Linked DNA regions of Homo sapiens. The protein of the gene in region 4 purifies or fractionates together with the protein of the main gene of each other region. This does not show direct contact. Each region holds a gene or a part of one and is shown on either strand. Other genes may lie near its edges.

Region 1 (3,519 bases), on a different chromosome or scaffold from region 4:
AAGTGTGTGATACAAGTGTAGAATGGAGTATTAAATTGCCTTAAAAAATGAAGTGTTCTGTATCTGTAAGATAAAGAATGAATCACCAAAATACATAAAATGACAAAACTGGCTGGGCATGTTGGCTCACGCCTGTAATCCCAGCACTTTGGGAGGCTGAGGCGGACAGATCACCTGAGGTCAGGAGTTTGAGACCAGCCTGGTCAACATGGTGAAACACCGTCTCTACTAAAAATACAAAAATTAGCTGGGTGTGGTGGCGTGCGCCTGTAATCTCAGCTACTTGGGAGGCTGAGGCAAAAGAATTGCTTGAACCCGGGAGGCGGAGGTTGCAGTGAGCCAATATCGTGCCATTGCACTCCAGCTTGGGCAACGAGTGAAACTCTGTCTCAAAAAAAAAAAAATTCAAAACTCAGTTGTATATTTTTATGCACATATGTGTACAATATCTCTTAAAGGACATATAAGAGACTGTTGTTTGCCTCTGGGAAGGGAATTGGGGTCTGCAGGGGAAGGGGTGGCAGGGAGAGTTTCTCTTCTCTGCATATTCTTTTTTTTTTTTTTTCTTTAACAACACTCTGTAGTCCAGTGCTGCATATTCTTGTAGCTTTTGAAGTTTAATATCTGTTACATAATTTTCTACAGAGCAGCAGTTTTTGAGCAATTGTTATTTTGTTTTTGTCTCATCCCATTGCTCCTCAACCTGGGTCAGATGGAGCAGCCTCTTCAGTAAGCACGAAACATGCTCTCATCATGGATGAAGTAGATGGCATGGCAGGCAATGAGGATAGGGGAGGAATTCAGGTAATTCAAGTGCTGTATTTTTGCAGTTTCACTGTTGATAATTTAGATTGTTAGAACATTGTCATTCTCTCATACTTAGGGCAGTTAAGGCATGTTGCTGAGGAGATTTTTAGAACCTAAAATAGCTTGTGTGGTATTTGTCATTTTTAAAATAATTATTTTTGTGTTGCAAACTTGCCTTTCAGGAATTAATTGGCCTGATAAAACATACTAAAATTCCCATTATTTGTATGTGCAATGATAGAAATCATCCCAAGATTCGCTCTCTGGTTCATTATTGTTTTGATCTTCGTTTTCAAAGACCTCGGGTTGAACAGATTAAGGTATGATGATTGAAATTTTTTTTCCATCACACTAGCCTATTTATTTAAGGGTCAATTTTTAAAAGTACCTGATAAATATTTTTAAAATACCTGATTATATGAGTTAAAAATCATTGAGGACTCCTCCCTTGTCAATTTCAGGGTGCTATGATGTCTATTGCATTTAAAGAAGGTTTAAAGATTCCCCCTCCAGCTATGAATGAAATAATTTTGGGAGCCAATCAAGATATCAGACAGGTAAATTAAATATATATCATGTAACAGTTGTTGATTATTTTTAACTAATGCTTTCAACCTTGTAGGGATGGGGAGCAACAGGATTTTCCTATCTTGACGTTGTCTTATTTGTGATTCTTTTAGGTTTTACATAATCTGAGTATGTGGTGTGCACGAAGTAAAGCATTAACCTATGACCAGGCCAAAGCTGATTCTCACAGAGCCAAAAAGGATATCAAAATGGTAAAATAAATGTCCATGTCTTAGTTACTTTCCTAAGCCAAAACACTTCTTGTTCTGTAGGTAGCTTGATAGAAGTAGTTATTATAGTTCCTTGGTATGCCTGTGGAATCCAGGGATATATAGTAGGAAGTATAGACAGCTGCTGAAAGTGTTTCTAATTCAAATGATTTTTTTCTCAAAGATTGTCAATGTCAATTATAAATTTTGAGAAAGGGATAAATTTTAAATTATACTTATGCTTCAACAATTATAAAATGGCTTTTCCAGAGTTCTTTATGTTTGGCTTTCGTGTTTGGAATGGTTTTGCACTGTTCAGAATAATCCATGTCAAATGGTTTAGTTTAATGACCTCTCTGAAACTAGAGGTATGTATCAGTTTCCTCTGTGTTGTATTTTACCTAGTTGCTAATCAGAATTTATAGTTAGAGCAATGATTAAGCAGGTTCTAAAAAAGTTAATACACTTTCTTATTTATTTAAATTTTCAAAATTTTTGGTAGAGACAGGGTCTCGCTATGTTTCCCCGACTGGTCTTGAATTCCTGGCCTCAAGTGATCCTCCTGCTGTGGCCCCCAAGGTGCCGGGATTATAGGTGTGAGCCACCACGTCTGGCCTATACGCTTTATTTTTTAGAGCAGTTGAGGCTCAGGAGTTTGAGACCAGCCTGGCCAACATGGTGATCCATGCCTGGCCTATGGATTAAAAATGGAGTGGAAGGTACAGAGAGTTCTCACATACTTCATGTCCCCCTCACACGCACAGCCTCTCCCACTGCCAACATCCCCCACCACAGTGGTATATCTGTTACAATCGATGAACCTACAGTGATACCTCATTATCACCCAGAGTCCGTAGTTGACATTAGCATTCCCTCTTGGTGTTGTACGTTGTGTGGTTTTGACAAATGACATGTATTCACCATTGTAGTATCATACAGAATAGTTTCACTGTCCTGAACATCCTCTGTGCTCTACCTGTTCATTCTTCCTTTCCGCTTTCCTCCCTACAACCCCTGGCAGCCACTGATCCTTTCACTGTGTCCATAGTTTTGCCTTTTCCAGAATGTGGTATAGTTGGAATCATGTAGTATGTGGACTTTTCCAGTTGGCTTTTTTCACGTAGTAATGGCATATAAGGTTCTTCCATAACTTTTTTGTTTTTGTTTTTGTTTTTTTTGGTTTTTTTTTTTTCGGAGTCTTGCTTTGTCACCCAGGCTGGAGTACAGTGGTGTGATCTTGGCACACTGTAGCCTCTGCCTCCCGGGTTCATGTGATTCTCTTGCCTCAGGCTTCTGAGTAGCTCGGGTTACAGGCACCTGCCACCACACCTGGCCAATTTTTTATTTTTAGTAGAGACGAGGTTTTACTATGTTGGCCAGGCTGGTCTCGAACTCCTGACCTCAAGTGATCCGCCCACCTCAGCCTCCCAAAGTGCTCGGATTACAGGGGTGAGCCACCATGCCCTGCCCCCCCATGTCTTTTCATGGCTTGATAGCTCACTTCTTTTTAATGTTGAATAATATTACATTGTGTGAATGTACCACAGTTAAATTGTTTATTTACCTACTAAAAGGACATCTTGGTTGCTTACAACTTTTGGTAATTATAAATAAAACTGCTTGTAAACATCCTGTGCAGATTTTTGTGTGAACATAGTTTCATTTGGGTGAATACCAAGAAGCGTGGTTGCTGGATCGCGTGGTAAGAGTATGTTTAATTTTGTAAGAAACTACCAAACGGTACAGTTTTGCATTCCCACCAGCAATGAATGGAATTCCTCTTGTTCCATATCCTCGTTAGCATTTGGTGATGTTACCGTTTTGAATTTTGGCCATTCTAATAGGTGTGTCCCTCTCTTTTTTCAGGGCCCATTTGATGTTGCCCGGAAAGTGTTTGCAGCTGGAGAGGAGACTGCTCACATGTCACTTGTGGACA
Region 2 (3,519 bases), 7.6 Mb from region 4:
CCCGCTTCCCACCCAGAATCAGACTCAGAGGTGGCCTCACCTGCCTTGGTGCCTCCCCTACCTCAGGCAAGTGGGGTGTGTGGCAGGTGCTGGGCATGCAGTGGGGCCCCACTCACCTGCAGAGCAGACCAAAGCTGGAGGGCCTCCCTGTCCCCAGACTCCTTCTCCACCATGTCCATCTGGGGCTGAATGCGCTGCCGGGCATAGAACACGACCCAGTCCTCCTGCCAGTCATTCACCTGCACAGTAACAGCAAAAGCACAGTTCACTGGAAAATGCCAGAACCAAGGGAGAGCTCAGCTACCCACAAGCATCTCAAAGTGGAGAGGGCTGCAGGAGCGGCACGTGGGAGGGGTGGCAGTCACAGGAGCCTGAGGGGGGAACCACATCCCAGGAGGAACCGGAGTCTCATGGACATGCTGAGACCTCAGATCCTATCCCAAGAGCAGTGGGAAGCATGGGGATGCTTCAGGACCCACTCTGTAGCCTTCCAAGAATGAAGGCTTCTAGAACATTTTTTTTTCTTTTTCTTTTTTCTGAGATAGAGTTTCGCTCTCATTGCCCAGGCTGGAGTGCAGTGGCGCCATCTCGGCTCACTGCAACCTCTGCCTCCCGGGTTCAAGCAATTCTCCTGCCTCAGCCTCCCAAGTAGCTGGGATTACAAGCATGCACCACCACGCCCGGCTAATTTTTTTGTATTTTTAGTAGAGACGGGGTTTCGCCATGTTGGTCAGGCTGGTCTCAAACTCCTGACCTCAGGTGATCTGCCCGCTTCAGCCTCTCAAAGTGCTGGGATTACGGGCGGGCGTGGGCCACTGCACCTGGCCCTGCTCCCACTTTCTTTACGTTGTTTTGTAGCAGCTGACAATAGTTCATCAGATGATGCACCAGGACTTCACCCAGTGCTCCTCTGGATTTTCCTTGTCATAGTACCAAGAGTGGCACAGCAAATACCCTTGTGTCTGTGCCATTTTGCATACGTGTAAATATGCCTGTAGAATAAATCCTAAAGGATAATTACTGGGTCAGAGCATAAGTCCATTTAAAATTTTGAAAGGGGGGCCAGGTGTGGTGGCTCATGCTTGTACTAAAAATACAAAAATTAGCCGGACGTGGTGGTGGGCGCCTGTAATCCCAGTCACACAGGAGGCTGAGGCAGGAGAACTGATTGAACCCGGAAGCTGGAGGTTGCAGTGAGCCAAGATCGCACCACTGCACTCTAGCCTGGGTGACAGCGAGACTCCATTTCAAAAAAATAAATTAAATAAATTAAAAAATTTGAAAGGGGGCTGGGAGTGGTGAGCAATATCTGTAATCCCAGCATTTTGCGTGGCTGAGGTGGGAGGATCACTTGAGCCCAGGAGTTTGAGACCAGCCTGGGCAACATAGTGAGACCCCTGTCTCTACAAAAAAAATTAAAAAATTAGCCAAGTGTGGTGGTGTATGCCTGTAGTCCCAGCTACATGGGAGGCTGGGGCAGGAGGATGGCTTGAGCCCAGAAAGTTTGAGGCTGCAGTGAGCTATGATCATGCCACTGCTCTCCAGCCTGGGCAACAGAGAGAGACTCTATCTTTTAAAATTAAAATTAAAACTAAATTTTAAATTTTTGGCCAGGCACGGTGGCTCATGCCTGTAATCCCAGCACCTTGGGAGGTTGAGGCAAGCAGATCACAAGGCCAGGAGATTGAGACTGTCCTGGCTAACACGGTGGAACCCCATCTCTACTAAAAATACAAAAAAAAATTAGCCGGGCATGGTGACAGGCACCTGTAGTCCCAGCTACTCAGGAGGCTGAGGCAGAAGAATGGCGTGAACCTGGGAGGCGGAACTTGCAGTGAGCCAAGATCGCACCACTGCACTCCAGCCTGGGTGACAGAGCGAGACTCCATCTCAAAAAAAAAATTTTTTTTTTGATAGGCATTGCCACGTTGCTGCCCATAAAGATCGTTGTCCCAAGTCACACTCACATCACAGGGTGCCATGGGGCCTGCTCCCTCGTGCTCTGGTTGGCACACATGCAGCACACTTTTGGCCTTTACAGGTTCCATATGTAACAGAAGATATCTGACTGTACTACCTTTTAGTTTACTTTTTACTTTTTTTTTTTCTTTTTTGAGATGAAGTTTCACTCTTGTCACCCAGGCTGGAGTGCAATGGCGTGATTTCAGCTCACTGCAATCTCTGTCTCCCGGGTTCAAGCGATTCTCCTGCCTCAGCCCCCAGAGTAGCTGGGATTACAGGTGCGCACCACCATGCCCGGCTAATTTTTGTATTTTTAGTAGAGACAGGATTTCACCATGTTGGTCAGGCTGGTCTCAAACTCTACCTCACGTGATCTGCCCGCCTCGGCCTCCCAAAGTGCTGAGATTACAGGCGTGAGCCACCGTGCCCGGTCCAGAACATTTTCTTTCTTTTTCATCTTTGTGAAACAAGGTCTTGCTCCATTACCCAAGCTGGAGTGCAGTGGTGCAATCACAGCTCACTGCAGCCTTCAATTCCCAGGCTTAAGCAATCCTCCCACCTCAGCCTTCCAAGTGGCTGGAACTACAGGCACGCACCACCACACCCTGCTAATTTTTTGTATTTTTACTAGAGAGAGGGTTTCACCATGTTGGCCAGGCTGGTCTCGAACTGCTGGGCTCAAGCAATCCTCCCACCTCGGCCTCCCAAAGTGCTGGAATTACAGGCATGAACCACCAGGGCTTTTTTATTTAAAAAAAAAAATTTTTTTTTTGCTGCTAAAGCAACTGGCTAACATTTCCTCTTAATTTACAATCACACTGGAGTACTGAGGCCAGAGCTGGCTGACCTGCCCCAACCCCATGGCTCACTTCTGACATCTGTCCAGACAGCCCCTCCCCAGACAGTGATGACAGGAAAAGTCACATGGAGCCCCATTGAGAAGGACCCCGAGAAAGGACATCCAGGTCACAGGTGCTTACCACCCAGGAGGGAAGCAAGACAGACACACACGACTGGAGTAGCACACGACGCCAACATCATGCATCAGGCACACAGTCATGCGCACACACGCCTGCACACATACATGTGCGCGCACACGCGTACACACATGCACACACGTGTGCACACATACACATATGCACACATGCGTGCACATACACATGCACACATATGCACACACATGCACACACATACACATATGCGCACAGACGTGCGTGCACACAAATACACATATGCACACACACACATGCACACACACACTGTGAGTACAGCCACGAGACGAAGGGGCGGAGCTGGCGAAAACCCCCCACCCCCCGCCAGCAGGCAGGACCAGAGGGCACCACTCCCCGCCCCTAAGCAGGTTTCTGAACAAACTTCAACATTTCAAAGTCTTTCTACTGCCCCCGCGCCCGCCAGGAAACCCTGGCAAGTTTTCTGGGTTCATCTGTACCCTCCTCTCGAGGACAGGACAGGAGCCCTGTCCACTGCACATGTGCTGGGCGTCAAGCAGAACTCCCCAGGTGGAAATGCGGAGGGAAGCCACCATAAAATCACACA
Region 3 (3,519 bases), about 11 Mb from region 4:
ATCCTCCCACCTCAGTCTCCCGAGTAATTGGGACCACAGGCACAGGCCACCAAACCCAGCTAATTTTAATTTTTCCTTCTTTCTTTCTTTCTTTTTTTTTTTTTTGTAGACAGGGTCTCACTATGTTGCCCAGGCTGGTGTCGAACTCCTGGGCTCAGGCAGTCCTCCCACCTCAGCCTCCCCAAGTGTTGAGATTACAGGTGTGAGCCACCATGCCCGGCCATGATAGGAATTTTTTAAAGACCACTCAGACTGCTGAGAGGTGAAGAGATTAGAAAGGAGTAGAGGTAGATGAGGGCAGGTCAGTGAGGGGCTGCTGGAGTATTCCAAGCAAAAAGATGGTTGTTTGCACCAAACTAGAACAGTGGCAGAGAAGCTTCAGAGAAAAGAACCATCCAAGAGTCGTTTATAAGATAAAAATCAGCAGTATTTGGTGCAGGACTAGATAAGGGCGAAAGGAGGGAGGTCGAGCTTGCATTCGTAGTGAGGAGAAATGTCAATTACCTCTGGCAGAAAGCACAGGCTGAACAAACTCTGCAGCTCACTGGCACTGCACTTCCCTCGGCACCTATTTTTCAGAATTTCTAGAAAAATTTCAAGCCCATCTCTTATTTACTCCTAAATCTATTCCTGAAACTGTCATCCATTTTTAACACATTTATCAAGCATCTACGATGCTCTGGGGATAGAGAGGTGACCAGCAGCTCATGCTCTCTGCGTCTGTCTTCTTTGAGCCCCTGGGTGTTGCCTAGAGGCAGCCTCTAAACCCTCCTGGCAGCAAACACAACTCCCAAAGCTGGGGCTCATCTTACCTTCTGAAACCTTCATACAAGCCACTTAACAGACGCCTCTCTACCTCTTAGAGACATTCCGCAATGCAACAAGCAGCTTGAGTTCTTTTCACTCAGAGATTCACTCCTCATTTCATAATATTCTGAGCCCCAGGAGACATCATAGCATCAAATCAAAACTCCCCAGGTCTTTGAGCCTTGCTCTTAAAGGAAGATCATGAGTCCCACCAGGCAGTTCTTCCTTCTACTACATAATCAAACTCCTTTTCTCTAAAATGTACTGAGTTTGGAACCTACATGCGACTTGTGCCCTTTGATTTGTTGCCCAGATTAGTTTGTGCTGGGCTCTATCCTATCACCAGGAATGGTGGTTTAATAAACCCTGGAGCTATACTGTCCAATATGGGCACATGGAACTATTTAAATTAAAATTAAAGCTTCGGTTTCAGCTTAATTAAAATTAAAGCTTCCAATTCTCAGTTGCACTAACCACCTTTCAAATGTTTAATGGTCTGTTGTACCATGATGCACAGAGGCACTGCTACAGGGTTGTTTGCATGTTTGATGTGAATTTCCCCTTTAAAAAATAAAAATGAAATTCAACATATAGAAACTTTCGACATATTAACTTGTGTCCTGTTTCATGCTACAAGTGAATACTATAAATTGAACTTAAAGTAACATATGCCACTAAAATACTGCTTCTTAATCAGTTTCACAGTTTGGGCTTTGTGTAAAATTCATTTGCTAAGAATGTTTGAAAATAACCTGTGACTTCATCATGGGCTCATAATTTTATGAGCCACTGTGGACAAACACTGTCCTTTTTTGTTTGTTTGATTTTTAGATACAGGGTCTTATTCTGTCACCAACGCTGTGGTGCAGTGGTGCCATCATGGCTCACAGCAGCCTTGAATTCCCAGGCTTAAGCAATCCTCCTCCCAGCTCAGCCTGCCAAGTAGCTAGGACTACAGGTGTGTGTCACTGCATCTGGCTTTTTTTTTTTTTTTTTTGTAGAGGCAGGGTCTCACTATGTTGCCTAGGCTGGTCTCAAACTCTTGGCCTCAAGTGATCCTCCACTTCGGTCTCCCAAAGTGCTGGGATTGCAGACATAAGCCACAGCACCTGGCCTTTAAAAAAAAAAAATGTACCTTGCACACTGCCCAGTACAGTTGCTACTTAGTAAATACATAGACTAACTGGTCATCTTGAAAGCACTCTTAATTTTATATGCCTACTTCTCATACACAAGTCTGTAAGAGGTTTCCACTAAATGTTCATTTCAGATTCTGAATTTCAACTACCTAACACCAGCCCTATAATTATGCAGTGTGCAGGCATTTTTTTCTCTAGAATATCTACCAAATGATTTTATAGTCCAAAGACACATTTATACTGTGACAGAAAATCCACCAACAATGCTTCATTGTGGAACTATCTTGGAACAAGATTAGCAAAAGTTGATAATTATCAAAATTGAGTAATAGATGCCTGATATCCATTATATTATTCTTCACTTTTGTGTATGTTTTTTAAAATTCCAGAGCAAAAGATATTTTGAAAAACTTAGTCAATTATATACAAATTTGATGAGGCCTCACACATACTTTACAAGATAACTATAACTTAAATATGGCTGGGTTCATAGCACTTTATTGACTATCCCAAGCCAGTGACCTGTTTCATGAAGTCCTCTCCTTGTATGGTCCTGAGGCGTGGTTGTTCCTTTGAATGGGGAAACATCATCAAATCTCGCTGGAGATGGGGTTCAGGCAGGTTTTGCACACAGCAACTCCGAGTTGTCATGTTTGACCACCTGGCTGTAAGGCCAGTAGTCTCTGTCTCCTCTTATCAGGAAAAAAGGTGAAAGATCTGCCCGCATCCAAACACTAAAGCAAACAACTGCAGGCAAGAGCAGAGGAACAGCTGCTTCCGGTCCACCTTGCTCCACACTCAGGACTGCACCCACTGCAGAGATGCCTACAGGTAGGGCCAAGTCTCCCAGGTACGGGTGCTGAATGCTTAGCACACCACAGAAAGTCCAACATAATCTACCTTAGAATGCCTCCATGGATACACCTACTCAGCTGTCTTAGTTTTACCTTCTGCCCTATGGTTACGCTACACATGGAATCATGGGAAATGCTGACTAGGAAGAGAAGCTCATCCACTCGAAATCAAGTTCCCCACAGCCCTGAGAGTCAGCAAACCCTACCCACAGTCCTTTCTGTACATGCCAGGCATGGCTCTCAAGGCTCATTCAACCCTCATAGCATCTTGGAGGTGGGAAAGTGAGGCAAAAGAGGTTAAGAAACTTCCCGAGGCCCCTTGAGCAGTGTCTGGTTCCCAAGCTTCTGCTCTCCCTGCTACACTATGCTGCCTTGTGACATGTCCTCTGCAGAATGGCACCTTCTGAGCCTGCCCTTCCCATATTCCCCTCTCTGCCCCTCTGCACAGCAGCCAGACATCCACGTTGCTCTCTCTCTTGAAATGCTCTGCCCAAGACCCCCAGTTGCTGGTTTCTTCCTTTTCTTTCTTTCTTGGTGCCCTGTTCTTTTCCTTCAGAGGAAGGAGATTTTACACATATTACAATCCAATATATATGATGCATATGTCTATTGACTTGTTTGTTGTCTAGACTAGATAATGTGCTTTGTGCAGGAAGGAACCACATCTGTTTTGCTCCCCATCAGATTTCCAATGCCAAGCACAATGCTTGGCCCTGGTA
Region 4 (3,519 bases):
GGTGTCAGCCTCCCAAGTAGCTGGGATTTACAGGTGCCCGCCACCACACCCAGCTAATTTTTTTGTATTTTTAGTAGAGATGGGGTTTCACCACGTTAGCCATGTTGGTCTCGATCTCCTGACCTCGTGATCCACCCGCCTCAGCCTCCCAAAGTGCTGGGATTACAGGCGTGAGCCACCGCACCTGGTCACAAACCCATGCTTTTTTTTTTTTCTTTTTGAGGCGGAGTCTCGCTTTGTTGCCCAGCCTGGAGTGCAGTGGCGCAATCTCAGCTCACTGCAAGCTCTGCCTCCTGTGTTCATGCCATTCTCCTGCCTCAGCCTCCCGAGTAGCTGGGACTACAGGCGCCCATCACAACGCCCAACTAATTTTTTTGTATTTTTAGTAGAGACGGGGTTTCACCATGTTGGCCAGGATGGTCTCGATCTCCTGACCTCATGATCTGCCCGCCCCGGCCTCCCAAAGTGCTGGGATTACAGGCATGAGCCACCGCGCCGGGCCAAACCCATGTTTTTAACTGTTCATACTCTGAGTGCCAGGTTGGAAACCAGCTGTAGCACAACCTCTGGAGATGCTGGACTGGGCCCAGATCTGTCTAAACTGTTCCCCTTTTACCACACTATCTGGCTGCCCTCCCTCCCAGCTCCTCACCGGCCAGTGGTGGGGAGATGAGGAAAGCAAGGCCGTCCAGGACAGTGAAGAGTCCCAGGGCTCTGGGGAACTGATCCATGGGGACGATGTCCATGAGAACCTGGAAGATGAGGGCGCCGATGCCACTCATGGACACGCTGTACGCCAGGCAGTAGCCCACGAGCACCCAGAAGTCACCTGATGCCGCACACACCAGGTTAGTGAGCCCATTGAGCAGGAGTGCCAGGCTGAACAGGTACTTGCGGTGGCTAGCAAAGGCCGGCCGTCCTGCCATCAGCCCGGCTAGGGGCCTCAGGAAGATGTTGCTGAAGCCGATGATGGAGATGAGGAGGGCTGCCTGCTGCTCGTCCACGCTGTGCCACATGGCATATGGCACCAGGAAGACTTGTGGCAGTGGGAAGCCCAGGACGGACCACATCACACCCAGTATGTACACGCAGTAGCCTGTGTTGTGCCGCAGGATGTCGAAGGCCAGGTGGCGCTGGATGGTCCGGCCGCATGCAGCCAGGCAGCCAAGTGCAGGTGTCTCGGGAGGTGGCGGGGGACATTCTTTGGTCTCAGGGGCCACACTGGTGGCCACAGGCCTTATGATGGCCCCGCAGATGCAGCAGTGGAGAAAGATCCCGCCGAAGACAAGGAAGGTACCCCTCCAGCCCAGGTTCTCCAGAAGGTAGCGGGAGAGCAGCGGCCAGAGGGTGATGCCCAGGGAGACGCCCATCGAGGCCAGCGCGTTGGCCAGCACCCGCCGGCGGACAAAGTAGAAGCCCAGCACCGTGATGCTTGACTGGAAGCTGAAGCACATGCCCAGGCCTGCGGGGCAAGAGGGGAAACCAGCCTGGAGGCGCACTGGGGCCTTCCACCTGCACCCAGGGGTGGGGTCAGTGGTCATTTCACACACCTGCCCTCCTCTGGTTCTAGTCCATACCCAGCTCCAAGTCCCTGGGGACTGACCATGGAATCAGCTGGCCTCGCCACCTCCCTGTAGGCACCCCACCCCAGATCTGCCCTCCCAAGGCTGCCAGGGCATCCCTGTTCCCCTAGGTGTAGCACGAGAGTTATCTTTTAAAAACCCAAATTGGGCCGAGCGCGGTGGCTCACGCCTGTAATCCCAGCACTTTGGGAGGCCAAGGTTGGCGGATCACTTGAGGTCAGGAGTTCGAGACCAACATGGTGAAACCCCATCTCTACTAAAAATACAAAAAAATTAGCCAGGCTTAGTGGCAGGCGCCTGTAGTCTGTAATAGCTACCTAGGAGGCTGAGTCAGGAGAATCACTTGAACCCGGGAAGTGGAGGTTGCAGTGAGCTGAGGTTGTGGAGGTTGCAGTGAGCTGAGATTGTGCCACTGCACTCCAGCCTGGGCAACAGAGTGAGACTCTGTCTCAAAAACAAACAAACCCCAAATTGGATTAAGTCTCTCTTGGCTTAACACCTTCCAAAGACTTCCCATCACACTTGACAAAAAATCCACAGTCTCCACAATGCCCTGGAAGGCTCTCTGTGGTCCGGCTCCAGCCCGCCTCTCAGATGCCATCTCAGGCTGCTCCCTGTCACTCATTAGGATCAAGACACAGGAACTTCTTTCTCTGCCTCTGGACATGAAGCTGCCCCTACCTCGGGTTATTTGTAGCTGCTGTTCCTTCTTGGAATCTGCTTCCTCCAGACTTTCCACTCTCCTCTCAGTTCAGACGCCACCTCTCCAGAGGGGCCTTCCCCGCTCCCCACCCACTCAGTGTCTGCACCTGCACACCTGAGCATGCTGGAGAAAAAGTTCTCAATCATGTGTGACCGTGGCCTCAGGCGGGCCCTCAGGCTGCCTGTGACGCCACTACAGCTCCCTCAATCATGCCTTGCCTGCCCTGCTAGGTGACTACCGGTGTCTTCCTCTGTGCCCCCCAACACCTCCTCCCTATCCTTATGCTCAGCTGCCCACATGCCTGCTAGCCAGTGACAATGGCTTGCCCATTCCCCCAGTGGCTGTCCCTCCCTTCTGCCCTGCATCCTCTCCACTCAGAGGCACCCCTCTAGCAAGTCCCCTCTCTCCTGCATCATCCTTTTTCTCTTCTTTCCTAGATCCTTCTCCTTCGTTATTTCTCCCATTAAAAACAAACAAACAAACAAACAAAAAAAGCCTGTCTTGACCTCATAACCACTTCTGGGTATAGTCTGTTCCTCCAGTCCCCTTAAAACAAAATGCCGTGAAAGGGCTGGGCATGATGGGCTCACACCTGTAATCCCAGCACTTTGTTTTTTGTGTTTTTGAGATGGGGTCTTGCTCTGTTGCCCAGGCTGGAGTACAGTGGTGCGATCTTGGCTCACTGCAACCTCCACTTCCCGGGCGATTCTCCTGCCTCAGCCTCGAGTAGCTGGGACTACAGGGGCCCGCCACCAAGCCTGGCTAATTTTTGTATTTTTTTTAGTATAGACAGGGTTTCACCATGTTGGCCGGGCTAGTCTCGAACCCCTGACCTCAGGTGATCTGCCCGCCTCAGCCTCCCAAAGTGCTGGGATAACAGGTGTGAGCCACCGCACCCAGCCAGCAGTTCCAGAAGATTAAGAGGCCTGCCTGCCCTGTCCACTTGTGCCTGGCACTTTCTAGCAGGTGCCTATAAATTCTGGAGATGAAGTGATAGTCACCTGTGATGAATCCTGCTGTGAAGTAGAGCTGGCTGAGGTTGTGAGAGAAGGAGCTGGCCACCATGCCCAGGCTGGCCAGCACGCCCCCCAGCATCACGGTCACTCGGCAGCCGAAGCGTCCCACCAGGATGCTGCACAGGGGCCCTGTGGGAGAAGACAGCCAGCAGGTAGCAGCTGAATGAGGAGGTGGCGGGAGAGGAGGAGAGTGGCTGGAGAGGGCAGTTCCAGCTGG
Region 5 (3,519 bases), on a different chromosome or scaffold from region 4:
CAAAATTTAATTTTTATTTATACATTCATCCGTTCAATACACATTTCAAGAAAGCTGTATTGCACCCTTTCAGTGGTAGTTACAGGACAAAGAAACAAAATAATCCAAGAGAGAGACCAACAAATGTATATTTATAACACAGAGTAATAAACACAAATAAATGTGGAGTTATTTAAGCATGTAAGATGGTACATGCTCTACCAGGTATGGGGGCTTCTCTAAGACACAAGATCAGATTAAAGTCTTGAAAGATAATCTGGGGTTAGTCAAGCAGGTAGAAGTGTGAAGAGCACTTTCTGAGCGGAATCTCCATGTGCCAAGTCTAGTTCAAGAGACTGGATAGAGATTAGCAATTTGGAGAATGCAATATTAAGAAATGGCAAAGGTGAGCCTACAGAGATTCCAAAGTTGCATAGTGAGGTTTGTGTTTGAGAAAGTGGACTCAGGCAGCCACGCAAAAGAGGGATTAATAGAAAAGGAGACTGAGGTAGGAAAATCAAGGCATTAGTGTTGCAGCAGGTGTGGGCAGAGTTGGGGAGGCAATGGGATGGATTCATGAGCTATTAAAAAGGTCAAAGGAGCAGGGATTCATGACCCATAAGTATTAATTAATACAGAAGAAGAAAATATCAGAATGAGTTCTAAATTAGGGCCTGAGCAGCTAGATGTTGGGATAATAACAAAAAGACTGCAAAAGGAGAAGATTTACACTTTGGCAAAAAATGTATATGAAAGTATCTGGGAATTTTATGCCATCATTAAATCTACTTATTATGCTGAAAATCCTTGTTAGCTGGAAAGACTAAGAGAATTCCCCAAGGTGCCTAATATATAAACTTGGAGTAGTTTTCCTACTTCAACTTTTATGCGGCTTATTATTTGCAGTCAATTTATATTTGGTCAATATTAGTTAATTCATTTATCATCTCTGTAAGATTGGTTAATGGAAGCAGATTAAAATCCAACAGTGGTAATTTTCTGGAAGTCCTCCAGAGAGACTACAAAAAGCCAAAAGTCAACTTTAATTTTTGAGTACTTTTCCTATTTAAGGTTACTGAGATAAATTGTCTTTGCTAGAAAAAAATAAACAGTATTGCCAATTAAAAACTCCATTTACTATAGAAATATTCCTGATTATTTTACCTTTGGGAAGCAATGCTTGTTGCTTGAAAATTGTATGAGCCTCAATGGTTAGTGGTGGTAAAATGGAAGAATGCATACTGCAGATGGGTTACACATTTGTTTGTGTTCTATATTCCAAGTCACAAATACACTGCTTTGAATTGTATTTAGTCAAACAGCAGATTTGACTAATATTTCCCTGAATTCAAATAGCTTAGATTAATTAAGCTAACTGATTGGTTATCTACCATTATATAGATATTACCCAAGTAATGTTGTCAAAATAATAATTAATTAAACTAAAATAAATGTATGGCCCTGAGACCAGAATAAAATGAAAACCAAGAATAAAATGAAGTTTGCCATTACCGGGATGTATTCAAGTTCAGCAAACTTATATGTGTAGTTAAGATGCTTTACAACAAAATATTGCATTTTGTTATAGCAACAAAGTATTGAGCAGCTTCCAAGTCACTACCTTATGTGTATTATTCATACTAGTAATATTGGTAAACATTAGTGATACAATTTTCACTACCAAAATTTTATTATATTTTTCTTAGCCAATACATGGAGCAAATTTTTATAAAGTATTTCTTGTCAAATCATTGAATTCCTCCTCCCCAACCTTTAAATTCCCTAGTCGCCAAGAATCTTGGGTTCCACACCACCACTCTTTGCTTCTGTTCTTAAAGTTGTTGCCCTTTGAGCAGTGGGACACTTCATGGTCATTTATGTTATCTAGTATCTTGTGGTATGATTTTAGTATTCATTCAAGCATTGACAACTTTTCATGTTGATTCAGATTTTATAAGATTTGATTACAGTGAGTTTATAAAATATTTCAGTTATATATGCAATAGAAACGAAGTATCCTATTTTGGAAGATAAGTCTAAGGCATTCACAGCAATAAAAAAGAAGTGCTTTAGTATTTCTGGACTTCAGTCAAGGGAATTATTATTGTAAAGCACTAATAATGCAGGTTTAGATATTTAACCAGCCATAGATACCAGGAAGCCAGGTGTTAAATCAAAGAACCAGGAAACCATGAGCCACAAAAGCATCAGTGTAGCAGTGTTTTAAGTATTACGACTATATGGACCTGCACCCTAAAACATAAACAATGGTGTACCTTATGAAGTTAAAAACCCTATTTAAGACTAAGAAGCACTTTAGCCTGGTGGGGAAAGCAGTGGTTATGAGTGGAATAAAGACTGGAAAATTTGCTTTTGTAGTGCAGAGCTTTAGAGCAAGCACAGTTTTATTTATTTGCCTTAAACCAATATTTCCGGATAAAAGGTATATTTTTCTTGTGGAGATTGTAGAATAACTATCATTAGCAAAGGCAGAAAGTATTCATTTCAACTTAGTAAAGACATATTTTTTCACTATCACAGAAAGATGACCTTTACATAAAAATTGTTACATATACTTCCATAGATACTAATAGTAAGTATGATTTTTTTTTAAAAAATAACTTTCTAAGACAAATGGCAAAGGCTTTCTTTTTCATGAATTCTTTGGTTATAAACAGGTTTTGAGTGATTTTTGTTCTATGAAGTATTAAGTGATTCTGCTGATATCTGTTCTGTGTGTCCTTTGAAGACCAGAATATAATTAATTTTATTCTGGTCTAACATATTTATTCTGATTTACATTGCTTTTATGTAACATAATTACAGAATGAAAATATACCTTTAGATCTGACATATATCGTTGATGAAGCTCCTGCTGAGCATGTTGCATAAGCTTTTCATCCTTTTAAAACTAAAAACTCAGAGGCTCTTAACAGGAAGGATAAACAAAGCTGAAATACGAACTCTGTATATCTTCCAATGATTCTCGACATGATGTTTTGTATTCACTGGCCCAGAGACTCCTGAGTTAAATAAAGCATAATCAAATATAATTAGTATGTTCTGGTTATTTTATAGTAACTTACTATCACTTTAGCAAAGCAAAAAATACTGGGAAGTGAGGGATCCAATCTACTGCCAAAACAGAGCTCCTACTCTAATGTTGATGAACTAAAAATTTTGAATCTAATCAGCAAAGAAAGTTAGCTTATATGCATAAGTTTATACCCCCAAATATATGGGAATAAATGAAACTAAAATAACAGAAAATCCAGAAAATTTTAGAGGAAAACAAATAAAGCTACATGAAAAATTGTAAAAGAAACTAGTCCGTGGTGATAAAATAAAATATGTAGCCAGTGCAAAAGATTTACTTCTAGATTAGTTGCTATGTGCCCTCTGGTGGAAAATGATTTATTTTTGTATAACTATACTGTATATTTTCCCCTATAATAGTGTTAACAAGCATATTTGAGCACATCATAAATGACCAGATCTTTTATGGAACTAAAAAAAAGTAACTGATTGATAGATAGCCTA

What was found.
Region 1: the proteins of SLC16A5 (region 4) and RFC1 purify together in Homo sapiens (affinity purification with mass spectrometry; one large-scale study listed by BioGRID and IntAct). This does not show direct contact.
Region 2: the proteins of SLC16A5 (region 4) and FN3KRP purify together in Homo sapiens (affinity purification with mass spectrometry; one large-scale study listed by BioGRID and IntAct). This does not show direct contact.
Region 3: the proteins of SLC16A5 (region 4) and TEX2 purify together in Homo sapiens (affinity purification with mass spectrometry; one large-scale study listed by BioGRID and IntAct). This does not show direct contact.
Region 5: the proteins of SLC16A5 (region 4) and EMB purify together in Homo sapiens (affinity purification with mass spectrometry; one large-scale study listed by BioGRID and IntAct). This does not show direct contact.

The regions. Positions count from the first base shown.
Region 1 is NC_000004.12:39,300,345-39,303,863, reverse strand, and holds part of RFC1 (replication factor C subunit 1), read left to right. Parts: intron 1-712; coding exon 713-804; intron 805-989; coding exon 990-1,127; intron 1,128-1,268; coding exon 1,269-1,364; intron 1,365-1,487; coding exon 1,488-1,586; intron 1,587-3,449; coding exon 3,450-3,519. UniProt on the Homo sapiens protein: Subunit of the replication factor C (RFC) complex which acts during elongation of primed DNA templates by DNA polymerases delta and epsilon, and is necessary for ATP-dependent loading of proliferating cell nuclear antigen (PCNA) onto primed DNA.
Region 2 is NC_000017.11:82,723,200-82,726,718, reverse strand, and holds part of FN3KRP (ketosamine-3-kinase), read right to left. Parts: intron 240-3,519; coding exon 117-239; intron 1-116.
Region 3 is NC_000017.11:64,253,243-64,256,761, forward strand, and holds part of TEX2 (testis-expressed protein 2), read right to left. Parts: intron 1-3,519. UniProt on the Homo sapiens protein: During endoplasmic reticulum (ER) stress or when cellular ceramide levels increase, may induce contacts between the ER and medial-Golgi complex to facilitate non-vesicular transport of ceramides from the ER to the Golgi complex where they are converted to complex sphingolipids, preventing toxic ceramide accumulation.
Region 4 is NC_000017.11:75,097,950-75,101,468, reverse strand, and holds part of SLC16A5 (monocarboxylate transporter 6), read right to left. Parts: intron 3,432-3,519; coding exon 3,288-3,431; intron 1,513-3,287; coding exon of another isoform or gene 1,463-1,512; coding exon 653-1,462; intron 1-652. UniProt on the Homo sapiens protein: Proton-linked monocarboxylate transporter.
Region 5 is NC_000005.10:50,396,289-50,399,807, forward strand, and holds part of EMB (embigin precursor), read right to left. Parts: intron 3,003-3,519; coding exon 2,985-3,002; 3' UTR 1-2,984. UniProt on the Homo sapiens protein: Plays a role in the outgrowth of motoneurons and in the formation of neuromuscular junctions.